Regions from separate parts of the Homo sapiens genome. Here all the other regions are linked to region 5. The links come from fine-mapping of genetic effects on gene expression. A gene starts in region 5. Each other region holds a variant in brackets. All regions are shown on one strand. Distances are between the middles of the regions. Region 1 overlaps MIR34AHG (MIR34A host gene). Region 2 overlaps H6PD (hexose-6-phosphate dehydrogenase/glucose 1-dehydrogenase). Region 3 overlaps H6PD (hexose-6-phosphate dehydrogenase/glucose 1-dehydrogenase). Region 4 has its middle 21 kb from the start of LINC02606. Region 5 holds the start of H6PD (hexose-6-phosphate dehydrogenase/glucose 1-dehydrogenase).

Region 1 (6,163 bases), 64 kb after region 5:
TATTTTATTTTATTTTATTTTGAGACAGAGTCTCATTGCGACTCCCAGGCTGGAGTGCAATGGCATGATCTCAGCTCACTGCAACCTCCGCTTCCCAGGTTCAAGCGATTCTCCTGCCTCAGCCTTGCAAGTGGCTGGGATTACAGGTGCATGCCACCACGCCTGGCTAATTTTTGTATTTTTAGTAGAAACGAGGTTTGACCATGTTGGCCAGGCTGGTCTTGAACTCGTGACCTCAAGTGACCCACCTGCCTTAGTCTCCCAAAATGTTGGGATTACAGGCGTGAGCCACCGCACCCAGCAAGTGTTTTAGACAGCTAAAGATTCATCCTGGCTGGGTGCGGTGCCTCATGCCTGTAATCCCAGCACTTTGGGAGGCTGAGGAGGGAGGATTGCTTGAGCCCAGGAGTTCGAGACCAGCCTGGGCAACACGGCGAAACACTGTCTCTACAAAAAAATCAAAAAAGATGAAGCAGGAGGATTATTTGAGCCCTGGAGGTTGAGGCTGCAGTGAGCCATGACTGTGCCACTGCACTCCCTCCTGGGTGACAGAGCGGGACCCTGCCTCAAAAAAAAAAAAAAAAAAAAAATTCCTCCCTGTACCGGCACTTTTCAATTGTTTCGTTTTTGGTTGGAAGTCTTTCCAGAATATAATTCATGCTTCCCTCTTCTTAAAACAGAATAAACACAATTTTACCTGGCCTCAGGTGGCAGGGCTTTTTTAAGTGTCACGAATGTGGTTTATAGAATTTCCATTTCTTCTCTTGTTCTCTTTCTCTCACTTGTCTTTCCTTGTTCTTGCCGGTGAATCTGATTTCAGCAAACCTTTCCCTCCCTTCCAAGTTGCTGCTTCTAAATTACTGTGGGGTCAGGAACCCTCATTCCTATTTAGGTTAAGATTTTGAAATAAGACCATCTTGGATGATCTGGGTGAGCCCTAAGACAGGTGTCCTTAGAAACAGAGGCAGAAGGAAATTTAAGACAGTCAGAAGAGGAGAAAACACAGACACACAGAGAAGGCCACTGAAAGACAGAGGCAGAGACTGGAGTGATGCAGCCAGCCCAGGAATGCTGGGACAGCCACCAAAGGTAAAAAGAGACAAGGGAGGCTTCTTCAGGCTGGATATGGTGGGTCGTGCCTGTAATCCCAGCACTTTTGGGAGGCTGAGGCAGGTGGATCATCTGAGGTCACGAGTTCGAGACCAGCCTGGCCAACATGGTGAAACCCCATCTCTACTAAAAATACAAAAATTAGCCAGGCGTGGTGGCGTGCACCTGTAATCCCAGCTACTCGGAAGGCTGGGGCAGAATTGCTTGAACCTGGGAGGCGGAGATTGCAGTGAGCCAAGATCATGCCACTGCACTCCAGCCTGGGCGACAGAGTGAGACTCTGTGAAAAAAAAATAAAAAATGAGTTCATACAGTGGAGTTCAAGGGCAAGCTGGGCCTCACCCCAATGTCAGAATGAGGGGCCAGAGGTCATTTGGAAACAAAGCATTGCTTTGATTCATCACTTTCCTTTAGCTTAGCTTTAGTTGTGCTATTTACTTGATATTGAATTTCAGCTGTGAAGTTGGGAGTGGAGTGAGTGTTTATCCAAGGAGAGTATTGATTAACAGAATATGAGATATTAACAAAACACCATGTTGAGGGTAACAGTATGTTCTGAGGAGGGACAGGAACTTGAGCGCAGGAGTTTGAGCTGCTCAGAGACTTTCTTTTTTTTAAGACAGTGTCTTGCTTTGTTGCTCAGGCTGGAGTGCAGTGGGGTGATCATGGCTTACTGTAGCCTTGACTTCCCAGACTCAAGCCGTCCTCCCACTTTAGCCTCCCAAGTAGCTGGGACTATAGGCATGTGCCACCATGCCTGGCTAATTTTTTTTTTTTTTTGTAGAGATGGGTTTCGCCATGTTGCCCAGGCTGGTCTTGAACTCCTGGGCTCAAGCGATCCACTCACCTCAGCCTCTCAACGTGCTGTGATTACAGGCATGAGCCACCAAAGTGCTGTGATTACAGGCATAAGCCACCGTGCCCAGCCCAGAGGCTGCTTTCCTACCCTGTCTCTCTGTAACAACCCCATTGCAGTTGTGAATGAGCTTATTCGTGACTCCAGGAGTATAATAATTTCCTGTGGCTGCTGGATGGCTTAAATTATTCTCTCACAGTTCTGGAGGCCAGAAATCTGAAATCCAGCAGGGCCATACTCCCACTGGAGGCTCTAGGGAAGAAGCCTCCCTTGTCTCTCTTTAGCTTTGGTGACTGTCCCAGCATTCCTGGGCTGGTGGCTGCATCACTCCAGTCTCTGCCTCTTTCAGTGGCCTTCTCTGTGTGTCTGTGTCTTCTCCTCTTCTGACTGTCTTAAATTTCCTTCTGCCTCTGTTTCTAAGGACACCTGTCTTCGGGCTCACCCAGATCATCCAAGATGGTCTCATCTCATAATCTTAATCAGCTCCGCAAAGACCCACATGCTCTGGTTGCAGGGATTTGATGTGGCTATCTCTCCAGGGTGTTTTTCAGTCCACTGCAATGAGTGACGCAGTAAAAGAATGAAGAACAGTGCCTGACGCGTAGTGGGGCCGCTGTTGATATTGCTATTGCTGCTGTTTTTGGATTACTTCTCATCCTTTCATTCATTCACTGGTTATCCAGGTATTGGCCCTGGCTCCCCATCATGCTAGGTGCCAAGGGGGAATAAGTGAAGTGAGGCACCCTGACCCACGAGGGGATGATGCCCCATGTTGCTGGATATCTGAGGTCCCACAGTACAATGGACTGTCCTGGCTGAGCCTACAAACCTGCCACACTTATGGTATTGTGACTTTGGGGCGTGGCATTCCTAGTTGCAAGCAGCCAACTTGCCAAATAACCTTGTGAAAAGTCCAAATCATTGTCAACTTATGAATTAGGTGTACTTGGCCGGGCACGGTAGCTCACGCCTGTAATCTCAGCACTTTGGGAGGCCGAGGTGGGTGGATCACCTGAGGTCAGGAGTTCGAGACCAGCCTGACCAACATGGTGAAATCCTGTCTCTACTAAAAATACAAAAAATTAGCCACGCGTGGTGGCGGGTGCCTGTAATCCCAGCTACTCGGGAGGCTGAGGCAGGAGAATCACTTGAACCCAGGAGTGGAGATTGCTGTGAGCTGAGATCGTGCTACTGCACTCCAGCCTGGGTGACAGAGCAAGTCTCAGTTTTAAAAAAAAATTAGGTGTACTCAAAGATGGTCTGAAATGGAAGTGTGACTCCCTGCAGTTACAGTTTTGTTTTTTTATAATTTTTTTGAGACAGAGTCTCACACTGTCACCTGGGCTGGAGTGCAATGGCATGATATCGGCTCACTGCAACCTCCACTTCCCAGGTTCAAGCGATTCTCCTGCCTCAACCTCCTGAGTAGCTGGGACTGCAGGTGTCTGCCACCACACCTGGCTAATTTTTTGTATTTTTAGTGGAGATGGGGTTTCACCATGTTAGCCAGAATGGTCTCGATCTCTTGACCTTGTGATCCACCTGCCTCGGCCTCCCAAAGTGCTGGGATTACAGTCATGAGCCACAGC[G/A]CTCGGCCCCAGTTACAGTTTTTAAAGCACTTTCCCATCTGCTGCCTCACCTGTGTTTTCTGGGCTGACGACAGACTAAACACCTGAGGCTCAGCCTGATCATTAAGCTCTTGAAGGATTGGAACGTGCGGTCCGCTGACAGCGCAGGCTGGCTGGCAGCGCTGCCCGTCTTTTTTTGCCCACTCCTCCTCCTGTGCTTTCTCAACAGACCTTTACTGGCACTCACTATGTCCTGTCTGCTGGGCTAGGTGCTGGGAGTAGGAACAGGAAGCTGACACTCAGTCTGGTGAGAGGGAGGTACAAGCGAGTTGGCCACCATGATGCAGGGAGACGTGTGATGCTTGGGGTGGGCACTGGGAGCCCATAGCTGAGTGAGGGGGGTTGTAGGGCGCTTAACCGAGGCCTGAAGGATGAGTAAGAGTTACTTGTGAAGCTAGAAGGGTGGGGCCTCAAGGCAGAGAGGCTGGCCCCAGAAGGCCTGGGGGGCATAGAGCCAGCATCTGAGTGAGGAGGGCCCTGGTCTGTGAGCTCAGGGACACCTCCCCTTATGCTGCCTGCCTCCACCCAATCTCCTTCAGTGAGCTGGTTTGTGGCTGAAATTCAGCCATTAGAGCTTCATTCTTTTGGCTTAAGCCAGATAGAAAATGTATTCCAGTCCTGGCACCATGGCTCACGCCTATAATCCCAGCACTTTGGGAGGCCGAGGCGGGTGGATCACCTGAGGTCAGGAGTTTAAGACCAGCCTGGCCAACATGGGGAAACCCCGTGTCTGCAAAAATACAAAAATTAGCCGGGTGTGGTGGTGCACACCTGTAATCCCAGCTACTTGGGAGGCTGAAGCAGGAGAATCACTTGAACCCGGGAGGCAGAGGTTGCAGTGAGCCAAGAGCATGTCATTGCACTCCAGCCTGGGCAACAGAGCGAGCCTCTGTCTCAAAAAAAGAAAAGAAAAGAAAATGTATTCCATATTCAAATGCAGAATCCACTGAAGATGAGTCTCCTGCGGCACCAACCCATTCCACATCAGGGCATCTGGTATTTACCCAAGGGTAGGTTTTGCCATGAACCAGGGGTCAGGCAAGGGCCAAAGACACCGAGTACTTGTAGATGTGATTGGAAAGCAAATCATCTCTATATGGGGACAGGAAGAGAGAGGACAGCGCTTGGTGGTCCACACATGTTCCTTGGGCCAGCCGTGGGCTATCCCCCCACATTCAGACATTGGGTCCTGACACTCTTTATAAAAACACTCTGTGTTGAGTCCCTTCCCTGTGGATGGAAGGAAGTAGGTTTCCTCCAGGAACGCATGGCCCAGTGTGGTGAACTTGTATCTGCTTGGCTCCTGTCTCTTCCACTGCCTGCTCCCTTGCATCCCAGATCACTGGTTCACCCCCAGGTCTGGCAGCCTTTACAGAGTACCAGGACCCCGGATGGGGGCTACAGGGAACTGTGCTTCTCCCATGTGACCCAGAGAGGCAGCAAAGGGACTTCTCCATCTAGCCCACTGGAAACATTGCTTTTATTTGCCTTTGCACCATATATTCTTTTTTTAATTTTTTTTTATTTTTTAGAGACAGGGTTTCACCATGTTGCCCCGGCTGGTTTCGAACTCCTGGGCTCAAGTGATCTGCCGGCCTTGGCCTCCCAAAGTTCTGGGATTACAGGTATGAGCCACTGTGCTCAGCCCTGCACCATATATTCTTGAACTAAAGACACATACACACACGCATGCACACACACACACACACACTTTAGATTATTTTGAATATTATCAACCTATCCATTTTCCTTGACATTTTTCAATGTATAGTATGTCCTCAAAATATGATGTTATGCCCACATTGCATTTATTTTATTTTATTTTTAGAGACAGGGTCTTGCTCTGTTGCTCAGGCTGGAGTACAGTGGTGTGATCATAGCCTACTGCAGCCTCAAAATCCTGGGTTCAAGCGATCCTCCCTCCTCAGCCTCTTGAGTAACTGGGACTACAGGTGCACACCTGGATGATTTTAAAATATTTTTTTAGAGATGGCCTCTCCCTGTGTTGCCCAAGCTGGTCTCAAACTCCTGGGCTCAAGAGATCCTCCCACCTCAGCTTCCCAAAGCATTAGGATTACAGGTGTGAGCCACCGTGCCTGGTCTGAATTTCTTGCTTTACATGTTAGCTGGGAAGTAGATGCCCTCAAGAATGGTGGAGCATATGAGCTGTCCCTCTAGGTCAGTCCCATGGCCACCCAGCTCCAGCCCTGTCTCTAGGTGTGTGAATCCCTTTTGCACAACAGAGAGCCTGGGGAGGTGGAAGGTCTTGGTGACACCTTGTGAGTTATTCACACTGGCTGTGGGTGACAGAGCCAGAGGTGGGAGCACAGAGCTCTCACAGCACAGAGGAGTAAGGAGTTGAAGCTGCAGAAACAATGCTGAGGCCTGAGGTGGAGGAACAGTTGTAAATGGAAAATTAGACGGCAGTTCTGCAGGTTGGAAAGTGGGTGATAAAGTGGGCGTGCAGGCACCATTCCAGGAGGCTGTGCCTTGTGTGCATTGAGAGCAGGTCAGGTGGCCAGGAGGCTCCAAGCTTAAAGCTGCCAGGTGAGCCAAGCATTTTTTTTTT
Region 2 (6,163 bases), 36 kb before region 5:
GACATACGGAGTAGGAGGAGGGCCTGACTGATAGCATGAGCTTAGTTTGATAATTTTTCCTCCCAACGATGCTTCTTCAGACAAACAGAACTCATGAGGCTGGGTTTCCGCAGCCAGTGAGTGGGGACGGGGGAAAGGAAAGGGCTGTAGTGAGACCTCTCCAGGGGGACAGAGCAGCCCTAAGCTGTTGGGGGCCCCCCTGGCTGCCATCCCTGCTGCAGCGTCCAGCAGTGGGCGCTGACCGTGGCTTTGCTCTCCATCAGCAGCCAGTGGGAGCTGTCAGGAGCGGGGGTCAGACCTTGCCCTGCTTCTGCGTGGCCCTATCCCACGGTGCCAACAAGCGTGGTGGCCTGCCATGGCTGGACCACATCCATTGCACCCCTAGGCCCTGGCCACTCTGGGCACAGGAGACCCATGTGCTTAGACCCTCCCTCCCCTAGAGAGGATGACACGTGCCAGGCTCACCGCTGGCCCCACACCCGCTCAGGCCTCCACCCCTCCAGCCGCCTTGCTGACCACTCTCTTTCCTTATTGCCATTCACTCATTCATTCACTCACACATTCACTGCAGGGCGGCGTGTAAAGTGCCAGAAACACGAAAAGGAGCAGAATGTATGGAGTCTCTGCCTTCGTGGTCCTCAGCCCGACAGGTGAGTGGGAAGATGGGGGTAAGAGAGGGCATGGGTGGAGCCGCATCCCCTCCCCTTCTGCTGGGAGCTGGGTGGCGAGGGGCAGCTGGCTGACCCCACCCGGGCTCTGGCTGTCTGTAAAGAGCTTGTAAGAGACCCTGGAGAAGGTGGACTCAGGCTGGCAGCTCCTGAGCTTGTCTTCACCACGGCTTCTTTTATGATTTGCGCAACTCTTCCCCTCCTGCCCTTCCATCTGTCCCTGCATCTCCAAAACTATGGTCTATCAGGAAAACAGTTCCAATTAAGCAAGAAGAAACTGATGCTGCACAGCAGGGGCCACCCAACTGGTGTTGCCACACTGGACTGCTGAAACCCTGACCCCAAACAGAAGGATCTGTCCTCTTGGTTCATGAGAATCACCTTCTTACTTAGGTCAGTGTGGGGTTTCTGCTGGGCTTCCGGAAATACATAACAAAGCTACTAGCTCCAGTATCTATTAAGTTCTGCTGCTACAAGGTAGTTTAGGCACCCAGAAACGAGGCCCGCAGGCTGACTTCAGGAGACTGGAATCAGGTCCCAGAGACAGCCCCCGAAGTGGGATCCTGGGGCTCTCCTCTCCTCCATGCCAGCCTTGTCCTTAGGCCTCCGTGGCGCTGAGATGGCTGCTGCAGCTCACCAAGGCCTGAGTCCAGAGAAATGGTGCCGCTTCAGCCTGAGTCCTCGGGGTCACTCTGATTTGACCAGTTTGGGCCCTGAGCCCTCCCAGATCCCATTGCTGCGGCTGTGGGCATTGGATGTCCTGATCGGCTAGCACTGGGTCACACGCCCCATGCCTGCCATCGGAACTCCCCAGAACACATGTATGGGAGGGTCCCCAAACGGGGGCTGGACACCAGGTGACCCTCCAGTGCAGCCCTCACAGACGCTGGCTGGGTCCCACAGTCCTGCCCCGCCATGTTTCTGTGAGGACTGTGGAACCAGCAGCCATCACCACAGAGAAGCAGGGAGGGGACGCCCTGGGCTACCCCCCGGGAAGCAGCAGATCCCCCGCGCGCCTCCCATCTGAGGGACAGGCAGGGACGGTCACTGCAGCTCTGGTTTCTGGCCTTCGTGACATCTTCCCTTGCAGGCTCTGGGCATGTCTCACCCGTCTCTGTCCCCTCTGCCATGGGGTCCCTGCCCAGAGCTCACCTATTTCGAATGTGTGCGCTGCTCCTTTTGCCACCTTGTGATGTCACCAAGCCTGTGTGGGTCCTGCATGCTGTTGGTGACAACCTGCAAATCTCTAACTTCTGTACCTCAAGTGGTCCTGAAATCCTATTTGACTTCCCCAAAACACTTACATTCCTGGGAGTGTGACACAGCTTGGAGGTAGGACTCAGGCAAGGGACAGGAGAGAAGACAAATGAAGGCATCAGGCTCTGGTGTCCTCAAAGACCCTCCCCTCCCGATCTCCCACTCAGGGGTGAGCTCCTTCCCCTCCAGTGGGCTGCCGGGAAGGTTGGGGGACTCTTCCTAGACTGCTTGGGAGTCTATGAAATGAGATCATCCTGCCCACTGCTCTCTCTCCCATGAGGCCCACAGACCCTCTTGCAAACGGAATGCACTGGCTTGCTCAGTCAGACACACTTACACTCGCAACAGGCACGCGGCTGTCCTCGGTTCAGGGCCCTCACTCACGGCAGCCCTCCCCTCCTCCAAGAACACACACAGCATGACGCTGGGGCCCACAAACCCCTACACCTCATGCCCCAAATAAAGAATTAAAGCCCGGATTTTGGCAAATCAATTTTATTGTTTAAAAAAATAAACGTTACATTTGACATAGAAAAAGACATTTTAAAAATGTTCTTAAAAGGTTTAAAAAGGCATTTGTTCTGGCCAGGCATGGTGGCTCCCGCCTGTAATCCCAGCACTTTGGGAGGCC[A/G]AGGCGGATGGATCACCTGAGGTCAGGAGTTCGAGACCAGCCTGGCCAACATGGTGAAACTCCGTCTCTACTAAAAACACAAAAATTTGCTGGGCATGGTGGTGTAATCCCAGCTACTCGGGAGGCTGAGGTAGGAGAATCACTTGAACCTGGGAGGCAAAGTTTGCAGTGAGCCGAGATCGCGCCACTGCACTCCAGCCTGGGCGTCAGAGCGAGACTCTGTCTCAAAAAAAAAAAAGCATTTGTTCTGAATGTGCCTCATCATCCCAGGCAGGCATCTGTAAGTTTCCATTGTTTCCACAAAAACCAGTGGGGTTCCCCTCTCTGGAAAAAAGCACGAACATTCTTGCTGCTTGGCAATGGGTGGCTCTCATGCCCACACCTCTCCACCCAAGGGAACAGTCTCTCTGCTCCTCACCTGGCAGAAGCCCAGACCCTGAGTCCCTAGCGCGGGGCAGAGCACAGAAACATGATCCAGATGCAGCAGGCCCCGCCCGTCTAGTTCTCCTGCAACAGCCTCTTAGCACTGCTCCACTCTGACCTGCCCGGCTGGAATCACAGTTCCCACTCCGGCACAGGTAAAGATGAGCTCCCAGGATCCAGCAGGGGCTCTGCCCCTGGGGATCTGCCGCCAGCCGGCTCTTCCCGGTGGACAGAACTAGGAGGGGCAGGCTGTACCCAGCACATCTCAGAGAGATGGAGGCAAGCTGGGTTCCTGATGATTTCCAGCTAATACAGGTCCTTCCTCCTGCATGCAGGCGCCCCGTAACGCTTTATAACAGACGCCTCTAGACTTCTGTGGGGGTAAAGTGAAGGACCCAAAGCGACACAAGTAGTGTCTGTTCACACTTCCACTTTCAAAGCTAACTACTAGCTGTTCAAATATACTCCATACAGCTTTCAGCAAATCAAAGTGTTTACCTCTCCCACACCAAGGGAAGAAAAGATGCAGACTGCCTTTAAAGCACCTGTCAGCAAGGCGAGGGTTTTAAAGATCAGCCTTGAGAATCAAAGCAGCAGCAGAAGTGTCATTACTCCAGTGCTCTCCCTTCCCGTTCGTGGGTCACACAGAGACAGGCACATCCCCAGCGCTTTGCAAACAGAAGCGCTCCCAAAAGTTGGCTAGAGGGTACACTTCGGCAAAGGGATCATCTTCCCCCTGGCTTGCTGGACTCTTGGAAATGCGTCTGAAAGCCCTTGCCATCCCGTCTTGTGCTGATGACAGCATGAGCCCGGTTGCACCTTGCTCAGCAACAAGCTGCGAGATCCTCAGCTTCTCACTCATACCCCACCTTGAGCTGCTGACGGCGGCCTGGAGAACCGTGTGTGGCTGTTCCTGGATGACATCTGCTGTCACTAGCCTTCCCAGAACACCCGCTGCCCAGGGTTCCTGCTGCCTTCCCCGGTGGACAGATTTTGCAGGGAAGACTGAGGAAATGGGAGGGGGAGCTCTGCTCTAAAGCAGAAGGCACAGAAGGTGGGGTTTTTGTTTTATAGGGAGACTGCCCAGTGTGCTGCAAAAGGAAAACCAACAACAGGGAGTGCCCAACTCACCCCCTCTGCATGAGCAAATGCAGATGGACACTGGACTGTGCCGACTGACACCGGGACTCACACTTGCTGGTCAGTGGACGAGAGGTAAAAGCAGGCAGGATTATTACAGGAATAAATCTGCACTTCCAAAGAGGCAGCTCCCATGACTGAGTTACAATGCTTGGAGCCCCCGAGGGCAGAGTGGCACCAGCTGGGAGGTTGACACTGCATCACTGCTTCGGATGCCCTCACAGGCTCTGACTCGCTGCCAGGTGCTGGTGAGGCTGGAAGAACTTCCTTCCTTCCTATGTACAATGCAAACAGTGCCGCTTCCAGTGCTACCCACACGGGTGCAGCCTCACGGGAGAGTTGCGGAGAGAGGGAATGCGTTCAGTTCAGCCAGCGGACGGCCAGGGGTAAGCGGCCCCTAGTGGGTCACATGGCCTATGATGTCTGGAGACCGCAGATCTTCACCCTCTGGAGTCTCATTTGCAGAGTCTCATTTGTCGTCCGGTCACTGTGGCCACCTCACCCTCGTCACCACGGGCCTTTCCTGTGCCGTGCTCACTCTGACACTGAGATGCTGCCAGGCAGTTTTTTTTTTTTAAATCAGTGGAGTAAGTTCTAAGGGAGCCCCATGTGCTTAAGATAAAAACGTAGCTGGTAAAGTGGAGGCAGAGGCTGCTTCTGTGAGGCTGCATATATCTTACAGGACAAAAAGTTTTGTACTTGAAAACCAAATTCTGGGAAATAGCCCTGCAGGTTTTTGGGAAGCGTCTCCCTCCCTGTCGTGAGTTCCACCTGGGCCCTCCGGGAGAACAGGGACAGGAGAAACACAAGCAAAGCAGACAGGCCCGGAATTGGGAGCCTGAGCCCTGCATATTTTGGAAGGGAACCCCTCGAGGGACTAGTCTGGAATAGTAGGCCAAACGGTAGGAAGCTTTGATTACTCTGCTAACTTGGGGGCCCAAGAGTAGGGCTAAAGCATTGTCTGCAGAGAAACAAACAGGGAAATTCAGTAAGAAGGGCCTATTTTAACTTGCAGTTAGCAGGAGAATTTGTCCCCAGATTTTGATCTAGCTTAAAGTCCCTTGATTCCTTCCCCTCTACAAATGGCAATCACGGTTGCCCTAGAGATGCTGACTGACAAGGTCTCCCAAAGGAGGGGCCCTTCTGCCATTTATGGGCCCCTAAGTGCACACGTGGGCTTCCATGCGGATGGAATCATTGGTCCCCACCAGGGAACCTGGACTGTGGGAGCTGCCGCCACCATAGGACCCAAGGGCTTCCAGACCAGGAAGAGGCAAACAGCCTGCCTGGGAACACAGTGCTGGAACTTGGGACTTGGGTTCTGAGCGGGGCTGCTCCCTGGGCTGTTGTCATCACTCTTTCCTTTTTTTTTTTTTTTTTTTTTGAGATAGGGTCTCACTCTGTTTTCCAGGCTAGAGAGCAATAGTGCAATCACACCTTACTGCAGCCTCAGTCTCCTGGGCTCAGGTGATCCTCCCACCTCAGACTCCCGAGTAGCTGGGACCACAGGAGGGCACCACCATACCTGGTTTTAAAACTTTTTGTAGAGATGGGGTCTCACTATGTTGCCCAGGCTGGTTTCAACCTTCTGGGCTCAAGTGATCCTCTCACCTCAGCCTCCCATAGTGCTGGGATTACAGGCATGAGCCACACCTAGCCCAATTTAGTGAATTTTAAGAAGCATTTTAAAAAAATGAAAACTAAAACATAGAGGATATCCGAGGTTCTAAGGTTAAGAATTTCTTTATGAAACCTGCTTGGAACACAGTTGTAAACAAATGGACTGATTTATGATGGAAGGCACGTTTCTTGCTGCAGATCATGGTCTGAAGTTTGAAAGCCACCAGCCTAGAGGGTTCTGAAAACTTCTCCTTCCTAACACAGCTGAAGGAAAAGGGGTGGGTAGGGGCGGAGGCACAGGGACATCTCCAGGTTTGGACTTTTCCAACATGATTTGCAGAAGGCACTTGATTCTGGAAAGTAGACCTTTGGCATTTCGACCCTCACCCACACTCCCACACCCACTCTGCACAGATCGGTGGTG
Region 3 (6,163 bases), 24 kb before region 5:
GGAGAAAGCATCTCAGCTGCAGGGACCCTCAGGTGCCAAAGCCCCGAGGCAGGAAGGAACTTGGTGTGCTGGGGGCCAGATGGAGGTGAGCAAAGAGTGGGGACAGCGGTGAGGCTGGAGAGGAGATCAGGGGTCTTGCAGGATAAGGCGAAGAGGCTGGACTTTTTTCTAAGATCAGTTGTAGGGGGGACACTGGAGGATCTGAGGCAGGAGAAGACGAGACCTGACCTATATTGGGGATCGACCCCTGGTCTTGGGGGGAGAATGGGTGCAGATGCAGGGAAGGCAAGGAAGAGGCTGCACAGCTGCCCAGCAGAGACGACAGGGCCTGGACTAATGGGCAGTACAGGAGCTGGAGGGGAGGGAGAGGCACCCCAGAGTCAGGATTGACTGGACCTGCTGACAGATGGGGTGGGTGTGAGCAAAATGGAGGCCCCCAACATGAGCCCTGGAAGTGGGGCCTGAGCAGAGGGATGGGCAGTGGAGGCGCTCACAGACACGGGGAGGCGGAAGCAGAGGGGTTTGGTGGAGGGTTTAGGTGTGTTTAGGCTGAAGACCCCCAGGCGCAGATGTCCAGTTGTCAGGTGTACGGGGTAACTGTGACGATAAAAGGGAAGAACACCTGGAGAACATGGAGCAGCACGACCAGCATAACAACAGCAACATAACAACACCAGCCTAACAACACAACACCAGCATAACAGCAGTGCAGCAACACCAGCGTAACAACAACATAACAACACCAATGTAACAACAGCAACATAACAACATTGGCGTAACATAACAACATCAGAATAACAGCAGTGCAACACCAGTGTAACAACAACATAACAACAGCAGAGTAACAACGGCAACATAACAGCAGCAACGTAACAACACTGGTGTAACAACAGCAACGTAACAACACTGGCGTAACAGCAACATAACACTGGTGTAACAACATAACACCAGCATAACAACAACAAAACAACACCAGCATAACAACATAACACCACCGTAACAACAGCAACATAACAACACTGGTGTAACAACAATGCAACACCAGTGTAACAACAGCAACATAACACTGGTGTAACAACAATATAACAACACTGGCGTAACAACAGCAACATAACAGCACTGGCGTAACGACAACATAACAGCACTGGTGTAACGACATAACACTGGCGTAACAACAGCAACACCAGTGTCAACAGCAATGTAACAACACCAGCATAACAACAACATAACACCAGCTTAACAACAGCAATATAACACCAGCTAACAGCAACGTAACAACACTGGCGTAACAACATAACGACACCGGCGTAACAACAGCAACGTAACAACACCGGAGTAACAACATAACACCAGCATAACAGCAGTGCAACAACACCAGCATAACAACATAACAACAGTAACATAATACCAGTGTAACAACAACATAACAGCAGAGTAACAACAGCAACATAACACCACCAGCATAACAACAACGTAACAACACTGGCGTAACAACAGCAACATAACACTGGTGTAACAACAACATAACACCGGCGTAACACCAGCATAACAACAACAAAACAACACCAGCATAACAACATAACACCACCGTAACAACAGCAACATAACAACACTGGTGTAACAACAATGTAACACCAGTGTAACAACAGCAACATAACACCGGTGTAACAACAATATAACAACACTGGCGTAACAACAGCAACATAACACCGGTGTTAAGAGCAATGTAACAACACCAGCATAACAACAACGTAACACCAGCTTAATAACAGCAATATAACACCATTGTAACAGCAACGTAACAACACTGGTGTGACAATGTAACAACACTGGAATAACAGCAACATAATACTAGTGTAACAACCACATAACACCAGCATAACAGCAACGTAACAACACTGGCGTAACAACAATATAACAACACCAGCATAACAACATAACAACACTGGCTTAACAGCAACATAACACTGGTGTAACAACAAGTTGTTGTAACACCACCACCAGTGTAACAACAACACAACACTGGCGCAACAATGGTGTAACCATACAACACCAGTGTAACAACAACATAACAACACTGGTGTAACAACAGCAACATAACAACACCGGTGTGGCCAGGCATGGTGGCTCACGCCCATAATCCCAGCACTTTGGGAGGCCAAGGCAGGCGGATCACGAGGTCAGGAGATCGAGACCATCCTAACATGGTGAAACCCCGTCTCTACTAAAAAATACAAAAAATTAGCTGGGCGTGGTGGCGGGCGCCTGTAGTCCCAGCTACTTGGGAGGCTGAGGCAGGAGAATGGCGTGAACCCAGGAGGCAGAGCTTGCAGTGAGCTGAGATCGCACCACTACACTCCAGCCTGGGCGACAGAGCGAGACTCTGCCTCAAAAACAAAAACAAACAAACAAAAAACATCAGTGTAACAACAGCAACATAACACCATCATCGTAACAGCAATGTAACACTGGCATAACAACATAACACCGATGTAACAACAGCAACATAACAACACCAGCGTAACAACAACATAACAACAGTAACACAACACCAGCATAACAACAACATAACAACACCAGAGTAACAACAGCAATGTAACAACACTGGTGTAACAACAACATAACAACACCAGCATAACAATGTAACAACACCGATGTAACAGCAGCAACATAACAACACCGGTGTAACAACAACATAACACTGGTGTAACAATGTAACACCAGCGTAACAACAACAAAACAACACCGGCATAACACTGGCACAACACCGGCATAACAGCAACATAACAACGGTGTTAACAGCAATGTTACAACACCAGCATAACAATATAACACCAGCTTAACAGCAATGTAACAACACTGGTGTA[A/G]CAGCAACATAACACCAGTGTAACAACACAACACCGGCATAACAATGGTGTACAACACCGGTGTAACAACAACATAACACTGGTGTAACAACAGCATAACAACAGCAACATTAACACTGACATAACAACATAACAACACTGGGATAAGAATGACAACACCAGTGTAACAACAACATAACACTGGTGTAACAACAATGTAACAACCCTGGCGTAACAATATCGGTATAACAACGTAACAACACGGGTGTAACAACAGCAACGTAACAACACTGATGTAACAACACCAACATAACACCACCAGCGTAACAACAGCAACATAACAACACTGGCGTAACAACACCGGTGTAACAATAGCAACGTAACAACACCAGCATAACAACACCAACGCTGACAGCAGCCCCGGCCCGCGCCGCTCCTCCCCATACTCACAAAGACCCTGCACGCAGGCACCGTGATCACTCCTGCTCCGCGAGTGAGGAAGGAGGCAGGTGACCAGGCGCGGGGGCAGAAGCAGACACTGCTTAACCACGAGCTCCGCTCCACTCCCTCCTCTGAGGCTGAACCCCGGTGAGCACTGATTATCGGTGACTCGAATATACAGGACAGTCCCAGAGATCAGGGTTCCAACGCATACCACCTCGCAGGAGAGTTCCAATGCCCAAGTCTCCTCACACCCTCACCTACAGAGAGAGCCTGGCCTCAGACACGAGGAGCCATCATTTCTCAAAGGCTTCTGCACGTAGGACCCCTAACCTGGGATTTGTTTGTTCACCCAGCAAACTCCCAGTCATCCTTAAGGGCTCAGCTTCTAGGAGCTTTGGCCTACCCCTTCTGAGGGGCCCTGGCTTCTTCTAGCCCAGCTGACTGTAATTCAGGCCTGTTTCTCTTTCTTCCCCACTACGAGGGAGGCTCCATCTGAGTGGCATCTGCCCTCTGCTGCATCCCTAGCCCCTAACACAGCACTACGTTCAGACAGTGGACAGCAGAGAAAATGAAGATCCACACATTGTCACGGATAAACCTCCAAGACGTAATGTGGTGAGAAAGCAACATGATTACTTTGATAAAATAAAAATTAACTTGAAAATAGGATATAGGCCAGGCGGACTGGCTCATGCTGGTAATCCCAGCACTTTGGGAGGCCAAGGCAGGAGGATCACTTGAGCCCAGAGTCCAGGAGTTCAAGACCATCTTGGGCAACAAAGTGAGACCCTGTTTCTACAAAAAATTAAAAAAAAAAAATTAGCCAAGTGTGGTCCCAACTATTTGGGAGGCTGGGGTGGGAGGATTGCTTGAGCCCAGGAGGTCAAGGCTGCAGTGAGCTGTGAACCTGCCACTGCACCCCATCTGGACAACACCGCATGAGACCCTGTCTCAAAAAAAAAAAAGAAAGAAAAAGAAAACAGGATATAAAGTGACCAAAATAAACAGAACTTCAATAAATGAAAAATATAATTGGAAACTAGAAATTCAGTAGATGGGCCTTACAGATGAGAAACAGCTGTAAAGAGTCAGCTAGCAGAAGACAGAGCTGAGGCGATTCTCCCAAATGCTGGACACAGAGACAAAAAGATCCATGCTCGGACACATACAGGATGACTCTTGTTCAAAATTAAACAACAGGTTGTTTAGGGAACCAGGCGTGCATGGAAACAGAAAGAGAAGCGAGGGAATAATCTATCCACAATTTGGAAGTGTAAGATGAGGAAATAGGTCAGAACGTGGGGAGGGACACGCAGGAGAATCAAATTCTTTTTTAAAAACGGGTGGTAGGTGCATCCCCGTTTCTTATACCATAGTTCTGTATCTCTTCCATGCATTCTGTAAACTTTAAATTTACCTAGTATCTAGTTAACATTTAATTCCAACAGACAAAAAGCAGCAGATCCTAAGTTCAGGCCTGCTGAGCCCAGCATGCTCCCCTCCCAGCAGCCACTCTGGGTCCATGGCGCCAGTCCTGGGCACCTGCCCTGACCAGGTTGGTGGTGTGCACTCTCGGGCCAACCAGACAGCAAGCATGTCCAGGTCATGGCTGGGGGAACAACCTGCCCTGAATCCAGCCCGATATGCCATTCCCGACAGCAGCACCAGTGTTGGGGGGCAAGAAATGAAGCCGGCAGCCACTCGTAGGAAGGCACTCTGTCCCCGGCCATAACAACCAGGAGCTAGAGGGTGCAGCTCTGTCCAGGGATACTAAACCTTGAAATGAGCAGGAAGTCCAGCCCAACTGTGCCAACCAAAATGCCAAGAGTGGTCTCCACTGGGAAAACAATGGCTGAGATCCCCCAGCTCTGTAGTGTTGTGGCCTTCAAGTTCTTGTGCTATTGTTGAGAAGACATCCAGAAAAAGAGAAACTGATGCCAGCAATGTTTGTGGATCAGTCCATTTATCCTCAGAATAACAACATATAAGGAGGCCCCTCTATTTCCCCTATTTTAAAATATAAGGAACCTGAAGTTCAGAGAGGTTGGATAACTTACCCAAGGTCACACACAGCTGGTAAAGAGGTAAAAATAGCTTCAAACCCAGGCAGTTCGACCCAGAGCCTGCAATTCTTACCACCAAAACATTTCCCTTTTAATTACCCACTCTTCAACCCTACAACAGAACGGTGTGAAGTTGAGTGGCGTGGGCACCACTGGCCTTTAGAAACAGAGCACAATGAAGAAGCCGGCTGAGCTTCTGGAAGGAGGGGTCTAGGGCAAAGCTCAGAGATTCCAATGCCTACCGGGGCCAGCAAAAGCGAAAAGGATGGAGTAAGGCTGGTGTCCCTCAGAGGTACAGTTAAGTACCTCAGGTGCATTCAGGTGGTGCCTCACAGGAGTGTGGGCCCAGGGTGACCAAATCTTCCAATTCTCCTTTTCGGGAGAATGTAAAAAGACAATTCTTCCCTTCCCCTGCAATAATAGAACAGGAAAATCAGGAATATCTTGCATTTGAAAGGGACCTAAGGCCTGGCACAGTGGCTTATGCTTGTAATCCCAGCACTTTGGGAGGCTGAGGTGGGCAGATCTCCTGAGTCCAGGAGTTCAAGACCAGCCTAGGCAACATGGCAAAACCCCATCTCTACAAAAAATACAAAAATTAGCTGGGCATGGTGAAATACACCTGTGGTCCCAGCTACTTGGGAGGCTGAGGTGGGAGGATCACTTAAGCCTAGGAGGTCGAGGCTGCAGTGGGCTATGATTGCACCACTGCACTCCAGCCAGGGCGACAGATAAAGACCCTGTCTCCAAAAATAAAAAATAAAAAATAAATAAATAAATAAGAGTTATTGGCCTCAAACAGTTAAACAG
Region 4 (6,163 bases), 170 kb before region 5:
TTATGGTAGTGTGGTAGTGTCCTGGTCAAAGGGCTTTCTGCCACCACGTTATCTTCTTTTGCAGGCCGACTGTTGCAACTTTATTCTACTGCATTATACAAGCAGGGACTGTGCTATCTGGAGGCCAGACCAGACTGGTAGAGAAGTATCTTAAGTGTTTCCTGACACCACAAATCCCCAAACACACTTGTGGTTCAGTTTCTGCTCACGCTACCCGACTTAAGTAACTTGTGCAGGACTCCAATCATCTCAGCATTAAGCCCTCCTGCACTCAAGGCCTTGCTCTGTGGCCTTTGAGCCTCAGCTTCCTGAGCTGTAAAATAGAGCTAGTAAGACCTTTCCTATAGAGCTGTAGGGGAATGGGTTCACGGCACGGTGGAGCTGACTTGTACTGACTCAGGAGGGTTGACTGATGATTTTCAGAAATCATTGGAGCCAGTTTGTAAATACAGCCATCATTAACAATTAAGTTCTATACACTTACGATTAAATAAATTATATTAAAAACAAAGCTCTAAAGACTCAAGACTCCTGGCTTCCTAATTATCTTACTACATTTTACCTATGCCCTGAGGTTATTTATATCCATGGTCTCTGCCTTGTGGAAGTGCTAGTAATGGTGGCTACTGAACACCTCTTCCCAACTCCACATTCAACAATGTCACTCTGGGACCTCAAAACCAACTGCGCTGGGAGTATTTACACCACAGAAATGGGCAAATGCTCTCAGCCAGGGCTTTCTTTACTCTTTTGTTGATTTTCTAGATTTAAGAAAGCAATGGAGAAAATGTTAATATTGGCCAGGCACGGTGGCTCACACCTGTAATCTCAGCATTTGGGAGGCCGAGGTGGGCAGATCACTGAGGTCAGGAGTTCAGGACCAGCCTGGCCAACATGATGAAACCCTGTCTCTACTAAAAATACAAAAATTAGCTTGGTGTGGTGTCGCATACCTGTAACCCCAGCTACTTGAGAGGCTGAGGCAGGAGAATCACTTGAACCCAGGAGGTGGAGGTTGCACTGAGCCGAGATTGTGCCACTGCACTCCAGCTTGGGCCACAGAGTGAGACTCCAAAACAAAAAGTTAATATTGCAAATTAAACTTGAAAGTGAATTGTACTTCTAGCAATAACATTGTGAATAGTACAAAAGATAAGGAACTATTCTCCCAGTATTCAAAGCTGTTATCCAATTTAGCAAAAAAAAGTAAAGTTCCAATATATAGTTGTCCCTTGGTATCCCAGACCCAGCCACCCAGGTGGAAGAAGGAGCCCAGGACCTGGAGGACACAGAACAGTGGAGGTGTCAGGCCAGGCCTGTGAGGTTTGGAGCTGGACCTGAACAGGATGGGGCCTCCAACTCTATCACTCCCACCCACCAAAGGGCAAGCTGGGCCCTGGCAAGTTGCAGGCCGAGAGTTTGGAAGCATAGGCTCCAGGTGTGAGTTCAAACCCTGGCTGTGACATTTATTTATTTATTTTTTTATTTTGAGACGGAGTCTCACTCTGTCACCAGGCTGAAGTGCAGCGGCGCAATCTAGGCTCACCGCAACTTCCACCTCCCGGGTTCAAGAAATTATCTTGCCTCAGCCTCCCAAGTAGCTGGGATTACAGGTACGCACCACCACGCCCGGCTGATTTTGTATTTTTAGTAGAGACGGGGTTTCTCCATGTTGGTCAGGCTGGTTTTGAACTCCCGACCTCAGATCCTGACATTTATAAGCTTCAATCTTGGGCAACCACTTACCTTCCTTCCCTGAGCCCTTGTTGTCCCATCTGGACCCATTAGTTTCAGGACCCTCCCTTGGATACCAAAATCCACGAATGCTCAAATCCCTTATATAAATTGGTGTAGTAGTTGCATATAACCTACACATATCCTCTCGTATATCTGAAATCATTTCTACACTACTTATAATACCTAATACAATGTAAATGCGGTGTAAATAGTTGTTATACTGTATTGTTTAGGAAATAATGACAAAAATAAGAAGTCTGTACATGTTTGGTACAGATGCAACCGTCCATTTTTTTTGAATGAATATTTTAGATCCATGGTTAGTTGAATCCATAAATGTGAAATCCACAGATTTAAAGGGCCTGCCGAATGTCTTTTTTGTTTCACTGTTTCTTACTCATTGACATACATGAAAATGCCAATCAACCCTCATATTAGAATCACACTCACTCATCAATACCATGAGCTATTTCTGGGCCAGGCTCAGTGGCTCACGCCTGTAATCCCAGCACTTTGGGAGGCCGAGGTGGGTGGATCACGAGGTCAGGAGTTTGAGACCAGCCTGACCAACATGGTGAAACCCCATCTCTACTAAAAATACAAAAATTAGCCGGGTGTGGTGTTGGGCGCCTGTAATCCCAGCTACTCAGGAGGCTGAGGCAGGAGAATTGCTTGAACCCGGGAGGTGGAGGTTGCAGTGAGCTGAGATTACGCCATTGCACTCCAGTCTGGGTGACACAGCAAGACTCCATCTCAAAAAAAACAAAACAAAACAAAACAAAAACCAAAAAAAACTATGAGCTATTTCTTTTGTTGGGTCAGGTAGTAATCAAGCACTTATTTGTGGTAGGATTTATACTCTATGTTCACATATGTATGTGTACTCTCCCCCACCCCAACCTGCCCTCCAGATAGCTGGTTGTTCAGCATTTACCCCGCACAGCACAGAATGTGGCCATGGATGTGAAAATTCTTACCACAGAGACAGGGCTCCACGATGTCAGCTCAGCGATGGCCCTGTGGCTGGAACCCTTTGGAAAGGCGACATGTGTGTCTGAGTTGAGGTGGAAACTAGTTCTTTTTTTTTTTTTTCTGAGACTAAATCTCGCTCTGTCACCCAGGCTGGAGTTCAGTGGCATGATCTCGGCTCACTACAACCTCCTCCTCCCGGGTTCAAGCAATTCCTCTGCCTCAGCCTCCTGAGCAGCTGGGATTACAGGCGCATGCCACCATGCCCGGCTAATTTTTGTATTTTTAGTAGAGATGGGGTTTCACCATATTGGCCAGGCTGGTCTCGAACTCCCGACCTCGTGATCTGCCTGCCTTGGCCTCCCAAAGTGCTGGGATTACAGACATGAGCCACTGCGCCCAGCCAGAACTAGTTCTTTTACTTTATTTATTTATTTATTTATTTGAGATGGAGTCTCACTCTATCACCCAGGCTGGAGTGCCATGGCACGATCTGGACTCACTGCAACCTCTGCCTCCTGGGCTCAAGCAATCCTCCTGCCTCAGCTTCTCAAGCAGCTGGGACCACAGACATGTGCCACAATGCCTAGCTAATTTTTGTAGTTTTGATAGAGACAGAGTTTCACCATGTTGCCCAGGCTTGTCTCAAACTCCTGAGCTCAAGTGATCCTCTTGCCTTGGCCTGTCAAAGTGCTGGGATTACAGGCATGAGCCAATGTGCCTGGCTGAGTTATTTTACTTTATTTATTTATGTGTTTATTTATTTTGAGACAAGGTCTCACTATGTTTCCCAGGCTGATCTTGAACTCCTGGGCTCAAGCCATCCTCTCACCTCAGCCTCCCATGGTGCTGAGATTACAGGCATGAGCCACCACCCCTGGCCAGAACTAGTTCTTGTAATCATGGCCTGGAGGTCCCACTGTCCCTTCCCATGA[A/G]GACACCTTGGATGGGCGTGTTCTGGGCACAGGTGAGGTATCTGGGAACTCCAGGGGGGAGCCACCTGGTTTGGGCAGATCCAGTGCCCACCCATCTTGGGAGCTGGTCCAGGAACCCCAGGTTAACCTGGACTGAACAGGTTGGAAGGGCAGGATCAGGGCCTAGGTGACTTCTTGTGGTTGGGGGTCAGGGGAGGCCTTGAGGAGCACACTCTGAGTGAGCCCAGCCCAGCAGACAAAATTTGAGCTCTGGGTCATTTGCACTGAGTCATTTGTTCATTCGTTCAAACAGCATTCAAGAAGCATCGTTCAAACAGCATTCAAGAAGCATCTGGTCTGCACCAACACTGGGCTGGGTCACACAGCTCATTTATCTTTTTTTTTTTTTTCGAGATGGAGTCTTGCTCTGTCACCCAGGCTGGAGTTCAGTGGTGCCATCTCGGCTCACTACAACCTCCACCTCCCAGGTTCAAGCGATTCCCTTGCCTCAGCCTCCCGAGTAACTGGGACGACAGGTGTGTACCACAAATTTTTATATTTTTAGTAGAGACGGGGTTTCACCATGTTGGCCAGGTTGGTCTTAAATGCCTGACCCCAGGTGATCCACATGCCTCGGCCTCCCAAAGTGCTGGGATTACAGGCGTGAGCCACCGTGCCTGGCCATTTATCTTTCTTGATACTTAATATAGACTATTGTTACCTTTGCTGATAGTTTGTTGATACTGGAATGGATTGTTATGGATGATTACCATGTTCCAGACCAGGCTCTGTGGTGAACAAGGCTCTCATGGAGCTTGTAGTTTCATGGGAGATAATGAAGTAACCAGGAAATTCCAACATCGACCTGGGGTCTATGAATGGGCTTGGAAGAGGGGTGTCTGTAAATCCTCTGCAGTGGGGATTGTGTGTGTGTGTGTGTGTGTGTGTCTCAGGAGGGGGCTCCCAGGCTAGGACCTTCCCAAAGTCCAGACACAATTGTAATAGAGTGTAATCAGTGTGATGACAGGAAGTTCAGGGTGCAACAGACGGGCTGGGGGTGCGGGAGGGCTCCAAGGAGAAAGGCAGAGTGGAGAGCAAGAATATTCTTGGCGAAAGAAACAGGCCCTGGAAACTTGAGAGGGCTGCTGGAGTTGGTGGTGGTGGTTGTGGGGTGATAGCAGGTGCAGGAACAGACGGGCCTGATCAGGAAGATATGTAAATAGTGACTCTAAGCGCGGCTCTCTAGTTAAGCACATAAGCACATGTTGGTGGAGTGAAAATGATCAGGAGACAGGAAGCTTGCACCTGAACGTCTACAAGGGAGGAATGAAAGATTCTTGAATATCTGAGGACACCCTTCCTGGGGAATTTCATCCAAACCCCCTTCTTATGCCCCCTCATAGCTGAAATCCCCTCACAGTGTTCTGCACCCCTACCCCTTAGGTAGCTAGATTTAGCAAGTATACAGGTCACTCAGTTAAATTTGAATTTCAGATAATCCATAAATAACTTTTTTTTTTTTTTTGAGATGGAGTCTCCTTCTGTCACCCAGGCTGGAGTGCAGTGGCACAATCTCAGCTCACTGGCACCCCTGCCTTCAGGGTTCAAGTAATTATCCTGCCTCAGCCTCCCAAGTAGCTGGGACTACAAGTATGCACCACCACGCCCTGCTAATTTTTTGTATTTTTGGTAGAGATGGGGTTTCCCCATGTTGGCCAGGCTGGTCTCAAACTCCTGACCTCGAGTGATCCACCCACCTTGGCCTCCCAAAGTGCTGGGATTACAGGCGAGAGCCACGGCAGCCAGCCCACAAACAACTTTTTAGTGTATGTGCCGTACAACATTTGGCAACTCTACACTGCCAGCGCCTGCCTGAGCTGGTCCCTTGGCCAGCGTTCCCTCTCTCCAGCCATCCCTCTGGGTGGGTTAGCTGCTGAGTGAGATGGGCTGGGCTGAGCTCAGCATGAAAGCAGGAATCTGGGGTCAGAACCAGATGCAAGGAGGAGTCCAGGATCGGGAGGACACAGAGCAATGGAGGTGTCAGGCCAGGCCTATAAGGTTCAGAGCTGGACCTGAACAGGATGGGGCCTCCAACTCTATCACCCCCACCCACCAAAGGGCAAGCTGGACTCTGGCAAGTTGCAGGCTGAGAGTTTGGAAGTACAGGCCCCAGGTCTGAGTTCAAACCCTGACCCTGACATTTATAAGCTGTGATCTTGGGTGGCCACTTACCTTCCTTCTCTGAGCCCTTGTTGTCCCATCTATCAAACGGTAATATTAATACTAAACAGAGGTGGTTGTGAAGATTACAGGGGACATGGGGCACTCAGCACAGTGTCTGGTGTATCCTGAGTGCTCAATAAATGGTAGGCATGATCGTCACGTATGCTATTATGTATCTTTATACAATAATTATTTATGACAATAAGAAGTTATTATTCCTATAGACTGGACTTTTATTTCTGCTATCTTCCCAGCATCTAGAACGATGCCTAGAACACAGCAGGAGCTCAGCAATTATGTGCTGAAAGGCTACACGATGG
Region 5 (6,163 bases):
AAACAAGGCCTGGCATACAGAAGGCGCTCTATAAATATCTGCTAAATGAACAAATAAATCCCATTTGCACAGGACCACTGTCATTTCTGCATTTGAAATACGGCACAAAGGAATATACCTCTAATGGTGACTTCAAGCACTGTGACACAGCACACAGCAGCAGCTTACTACTTGGAACAACACTTTTAATAATAAAAGAGCTATTTATGGAGTATTTAACTATATGCCAAATGCTAGGCTATCGGTGTGACATGCATCACACCATTTAAATCTTGCCACAACCATATGAGGTAGGTAACATGATTATCCCCATCTTAGCAGGGAGTAGAGAGGAAACTAAGGCAAAGAGAAGTCAAATAACATGGCCAGGCGCAGTGGCTTACGCCTATAATCCCAGCACTTTGGGAGGCTGAGGCAGGAGGATCATTGGAGGTCGGGAGTTTAAAACCAGCCTGGCCAACACGGTGAAACCCCGTCTCTACTAACAATACAAAAATTAGCCAGGCGTGGTGGCAGGTGCCTGTAATCCCAGCTACTTGGGAGGCTGAGGGAGCAGAATCACTTGAACCTAGGAGGCGAACGTTGCAGTGAGCTGAGATTGCGCCCCTGGGCAACAGAGCAAGACTCCATCTCAAAAAAAAAAAAAAAAAAAAAAAAAAGAGAAGTCAAATAACTTACCAAAGGTCAAGCAGCTAGAGGTGATAGGATTTGAATACAGGCAGTCTGGTCCCAGAGCTAACCTTCCCGTAAAATGTGACTACATCCCTGAATGGCAAAATGTAAAACACTGTATTACATTTACACTGTATCAGTGTAGATACTGAACAGTGGTTTAAACCAGACAGGCTGTTTCTCTGCTCCATGAAGTCAAGCTGTTCCGAACACTAACTGCGGTAACCAGCCTCTGCCTCCCGGGTCCGCTTTGCCTTTCACAGTTCTTCCTTCTGACATCATGAAGACATCATGTATAAGCCTCAGTTGCTTTGTTGAAACGTGGAAGACCTTCAAGGGCTAGTTTTTGGAGAACTGGTTACATAAGAATATTCTGGATTCAAATCCCTGCCACTCAGTAACTATGTACCCTCAGACAAGTTATTTAACCTCTCTGTACCTCAACCACAGAATGGGAAAACAAATCGATGGGAAGCATGTAAGGTACTTAGCACAATGCCTGGCATACAGTAAGCACCCAAGAAATCCTAGCTGCTTTTTTTTTTTTTTTTTTTTAAGGAGAAGTCTAGCTTTGTCACCCAGGCTGGAGTGCAGTGGCACGATCTTGGTTCACTGCAACCTCCGTCACCGGAGGCAGGGCGGTTCAAGCGATTTTCCTGCCTTAGCCTCCCCAGCAGCTGGGATTACAGGCATCCGCTGCCCCCATGCCCAGCAAATTTTTGTATTTTTAGTAGAGACGGGGTTTCACCATGTTGGCAAGGCTGGTCTTGAACTCTTCAAGTGACCTGCCCGCCCTGGCCTCCGAAAGTGTTGGGATTACAGGCGTGAGCCACTGGGCCCGGCCAGAAATGTTAGTTTCTATCATTAAACCATTAGCTTCACGAATGAAGTCCTTCTTGCTAGCTTCTTGAACTGCTGTTAAAACCAACTAACCAGCTGGGCGCGGTGGTTCATGCCTGTAATCCCAGCACTTTGGGAGGCCGAGGTGGTGGATCACCTGAGGTCAGCAGTTCAAGACAAGCCTGGATAACATAGTGAAACCCTGTTTCTACTAAAAAATACATAAAATTAGCCGGGTGTGGTGGCACGCGCCTGTAATCCCAGCCACTCAGGAGGCTGAGGTGGAAGAATCGCTTGAACCAGGAGGAGAAGGTTGCAGTGGGCCGAGATCGCGCCATTGCACTCCAGCTTGGGCAACAACTAACCATCAACCACAGAAAAATGCCAAGGAAAAACTCAGACAGCTTTTCATGATCTTCCAATCATAATGATGAAAAATTAAAGGGATATGATGCATAATTTAAAATACGCTGTCTGGGCGTGGTGCTTCACACCTGTAATCCCAACACTTCGTAAGGCTTAAGCAGGAGGATCGCTTGAGCCCAGGAGTTCGAGACCAGCCAGGGCAACATAGTGAGACCACTGTCTCTACAAAAGGTTTAAAAATTAGCCAGGCGTGGTGGTGTGCGCCTGTGGTCCCAGCTACCCCGGAGGCTGAGGCAGGACGATGGCCTGAGCCCAAGAGGTGGAGGCTGCAGGGAACCGTGTTTGTGCCACTGTACTCCAGCCTGGGCAACCAAGCAAGACCCCATCTTTTATAAGTAAAAGATTTTTTACTTTTATATAAAAAAGTAAAAAGATAAAATAAAAAATATGCCCATTTGACACCAGTTTTCCCTCATCTGCTGCCTTTCATGAGCCATGGGCCTGTTGTGGGTGCAGGGGGAGTGGGCAAGGACACTTCTTTCCAGAAGTTCTCACTTCTGGCTAAGCATTCAAGGTTGGGTGAGCTGATTTTCAGAGATCCAGAGAGGTTTGCCCCTGGAAAACCGTTCACTAGATCCGGGTACGGGAAACGCTATGTGAAACCCGAGGGCCAATCAATGCCAAAGATTAAGCAGGTCCCGGGGGAAATCTCGGAGTTCCCCCTCTCCTGGAACTCAGTTCCGGGAAGCCCAGGGAAAGGACAGCTCGGCCGCTCGGGGCGACCCTGGAGGGAGCCTGGCCGCCTCCTGAGCAGTTCCAAAGCCGCCAGCCCCAGGCTCCGTGGGGCTGGCAGCGCAGGCTCCGGGGCTCGGCGCGGCCTCGGGCCCGGCGGCAGCGCGGGTTGGAGGCGCCGGGGCCGGGGCGGCGGCGGGGCCGGCGGGGGGCGCTTACTTCCTCTCGCGCGGCGGCGCAGGCCGCTCCTCCGGGACACGGCCGGGGCGGCGCTGAGGGCCGGGCCCGCTCCCGAGGGCTCCCCTGCGCCCTGGGCCGCACCTCCTCTTCCGCAGGGCCCGTCACTCCGACAAGTGCGCGTGTCACGCGGCCACGCGCCGCACGACACTCCGATACCGCCCGCGGAGCCCGCGGCGGCCGCAGGGGAAGGCGCGAGGCCAAGGCCAGCCCGGCCGCCACCCCGCCCCAGGCCTCAGGCCTCAGGCCTCCACCGCCTTGCGCTCAGCAAGACTGGGGCCCGGGCCGGGGGCGCGCGCGGCGGGGGCGCGCGCGGCGGGGGCGGGGGCGGGGCGGGGGCGCCGGCGAGGCCACGCCCTCCGCTGGCGGCCGCCGGGGCGGGGCCTCGGAGCTTCCGGGGCGAGGCGGTGGGTCAGCTCCGAGCCTCCGCCCCCGCCCTTCCCTTCGGCCCCCTGGTGGCCGTGCGTCCTAGAGCTGTCCTGCCGCGTCCGAGACGCGCGCGGGACCCAGAAGTGGCCGAGGGACGTGGTTGTGTCGTGGAGGGGACCCGGGGTGCTGGCTGCTCCCTACGATCTGGCACCCGCTCTGGGACTCCTCAGGCCTCGCTTTTCCCCATCTGTAGAATGAGCGGCTCGGTCTTTCCCGTCTTCAATATCCAGAGTAGGGATTTAGAAGTCGGAGCGCACACGCTGGCCACGCCTCCGCGCACAGCTTCAGATCTCTGCCACCCCTTATCACTTGTGTGACCCTGAGTTCAGTTTCTTCATCTGTACAGTGGGGACAATGGGAGTACCTGCCTCCGGGGTTGTCTGGCACTTGGGTGCTTAGTAAGCGGAAGCTTGGACCCGTGTGGCAAATAGAAGACTTTTGCTAAGACATTGCTAAGAAAGACAGCAAATGGAATCAGGGCTTCTCTGTAGGGTGAGAGGTATTTAAGTGAGAAAACGGGATCAGCTGCCTCTCAGAGCACTCAGTCCCCTTCCTGTCCCCCACCATTATCAGGCAGTAGGTGGCCCTCACCATGCTCCCCAACCTGCTCCCCACTTTTTCTTTTTTCTTTCTTTTCTTTTCTTTTTTTCTTTTTTTTTTTTTTTTTTTTTTTTGAGACAGGGTCTCGCTCTGTCACCCATGCTGGAGTGCAGTGGCGCTATCACAGCTCACTGCAGCCTCCGCCTCCCAGGCTCAAGTGATCCTCCCGCCTCAGCCTCCCAAGTAACTGGGATCACAGATGTTCGCCACCACTCCTGACTAATTTTTCAACTTTTTGTAGAGACGGGGTCTCACTTTGTTGCCCAGGCTGGTCTCGAACTCCTGGGCCCAAGTGATTCTCCCACGTTGGCCTCCCAAAGTGCTGGGAGGAGATTCTGACCTGAGAGAGAAACTGTGCTGCAGCTTTTTATTTCCCGATGGTTCCATTAGAGGTGGGAGCGTCTGGAACTAGCAGTGGCAACTTGGCAGTGGCCGGCAGGACTGAATGGGGCCAACAGGCATGATTACCACACAGGATGTTAGGCAAGGGGTTCCGGGAAGGCTGGGAACTGAGGGGAGCTGGGCCTCACCGTCACCAAGGCCAGAGGCCATCCGGGCGCCCGCAGAGGGCTGCCAAGCCTCGGCAAGGATTTAGGTCACACTGAGTGGGCCTGGCAGAGGGGGGAGCCAGGGAGCCAGGCACTCTCTGGGCTACCTCCACAGCTGGAAGTGAGCAGGAGGGCTTAGGGCAGGAGCGGGCCAGAGCAGACTCGAATGATGCCGGGACTCTTGGCCTAGAGCCCTTCCCATGTTCTGTGGCCCTGAGTGTGTCAGGCACCCACATAGCTCTGAAAACCAGGGCCCAGGAAGGCACAGATAGAAGTGGGCAGGTGTCCAGAGGCATGACCGGGGGTTCGTTTCCCAGATCTCCATGTGGCCATCAGAGGGTGATCTGCTACCTTGAGGGCTTCTTATAAATAGCCCCAGGTCAGGCGTAGTGGCTCATGCCTGTAATCACAGCACTTTGGGAGGCCGAGGCAGGTGGATCCCCTGAGGTCAGTAGTTCGAGACCAGCCTGGCCAACATGATGAAATCCCATCTCTACTAATAATACAAAAAAAAAAAAAAAAGCCAAGCGTGGTGGCGTGCCTGTAGTCCTAGCTACTCAGATGGCTGAGGCACGAGAATCGCTTGAATCCAGGATGCAGAGGTTGCAGTGAGCCAAGATCGCGCCATTGCACTCCAGCCAGGGCAACAGGGTGAAACTGTGTCAAAAAAAAAAAAAAAAAAAGCCAGGCACGGTGGCTCACGCCTGTAATCCCAGCACTTTGAGAGGCCGAGGCGGGTGGATCACCTGAGGTCGGGAGTTCGAGACCAGCCTGACCAATATGGTGAAACCATGTCTCTACTAAAACTACAAAATTAGCTGGGTGTGGTGGCGCATGCCTGTAATCCCAGCTACTCGGGAGGCTGAGGCAGGAGAATAGCTTGAACCTGGGAGGTGGAGGTTGCGGGGAGCTGAGATCGCGCCACTGCATTCCAGCCTGGGCAACAAGAGTGAAACTCGGTCTCAAAAAAAAAAAAAAAGAAAAAAAAACAAAGCCCCAAACCAAGTCAGTTGTAACCTGCTTACTAAGAAAACGTCCACCTGATTAGGTAACGTTGGGGTGGGGTCTGAGGGGGGAATTAGCCTAGGGGGTCACAATGCCCTCCCAACCCTATGTCCACTCCCACACCACCCTGAGATGTTTCATTTCTCCGCCTGTCTTTCCTCACCTTACCTTCACCTCAGTCTCATCCTGCCTCTGTACCTTCCAGTTTTCTCTGGGCAATCAGTTGCTTTGCTTTCTTTCCATCATGAAGACGATTAGGTCGTGCTAAGACCCAGTCATCCTGGTGTGAGAGTACTGCCACCCAAAACACAAAAATCGAAAACTTTGTCCCTGTGGGCCCTGGCATTGGTTTCTGCACCTTTGCCTGTCTGAAGCTTTTCTTGTTTCCGTGCTGACCGCAGCTACAAGGGACCAGGTGTGCCCAGAACCCCGTGAAGGAAGCCGGGAGAATGAAGGAAGCCGGGAGAAAGGAATGATGCCCCATGGGTGGTCCAGGGGGTGTCCTGTGACCAGAATTCTGTCTGTGGTTTATCTCGTGCTTTATAAGGAGCGCCCTGGGGCTCTATTTATGAAGTGGATTTTTGGGGATTTTTCTTCCTAGCCCTTTAACTGTGGTGTAGGCAGAAGTCAGGGTGAATTCAGCCTGCTTTACAGACAAGGAAAGTGAGACCCAGAGAGATGAATGACTCACAGAGATGCCTGTGGAGTTAGAAATAAAATCCCATTGCAGTTTC

The links.
Region 1: its variant is fine-mapped to the expression of H6PD in whole blood (INTERVAL, PIP above 0.99).
Region 2: its variant is fine-mapped to the expression of H6PD in whole blood (INTERVAL, PIP above 0.99).
Region 3: its variant is fine-mapped to the expression of H6PD in whole blood (TOPMed, PIP 0.91).
Region 4: its variant is fine-mapped to the expression of H6PD in whole blood (INTERVAL, PIP above 0.99).

Annotation. Positions count from the first base shown.
Region 1 is chr1:9,167,651-9,173,813 of GRCh38, reverse strand. The region is part of intron 1 of MIR34AHG (MIR34A host gene); the gene reads left to right. Among named protein-coding and RNA genes, the nearest start is that of LNCTAM34A, 11 kb to the left of the region's middle. RefSeq lists enhancers at 3,281-3,780, 3,781-4,282. The variant G/A (reference allele first, on the strand shown) is at 3,556.
Region 2 is chr1:9,267,579-9,273,741 of GRCh38, reverse strand. It overlaps H6PD (hexose-6-phosphate dehydrogenase/glucose 1-dehydrogenase), which reads right to left. Exons shown (of 5, transcript NM_004285.4): 5 at 2,405-6,163. Among named protein-coding and RNA genes, the nearest start is that of SPSB1, 22 kb to the left of the region's middle. The variant A/G (reference allele first, on the strand shown) is at 2,557.
Region 3 is chr1:9,255,237-9,261,399 of GRCh38, reverse strand. The region is part of intron 3 of H6PD (hexose-6-phosphate dehydrogenase/glucose 1-dehydrogenase); the gene reads right to left. Among named protein-coding and RNA genes, the nearest start is that of H6PD, 24 kb to the right of the region's middle. The variant A/G (reference allele first, on the strand shown) is at 2,868.
Region 4 is chr1:9,404,961-9,411,123 of GRCh38, reverse strand. No RefSeq gene overlaps it. Among named protein-coding and RNA genes, the nearest start is that of LINC02606, 21 kb to the left of the region's middle. The variant A/G (reference allele first, on the strand shown) is at 3,642.
Region 5 is chr1:9,231,733-9,237,895 of GRCh38, reverse strand. H6PD (hexose-6-phosphate dehydrogenase/glucose 1-dehydrogenase) reads right to left here and starts at 3,122. Exons shown (of 5, transcript NM_004285.4): 1 at 2,830-3,122. RefSeq lists a silencer at 2,710-3,269.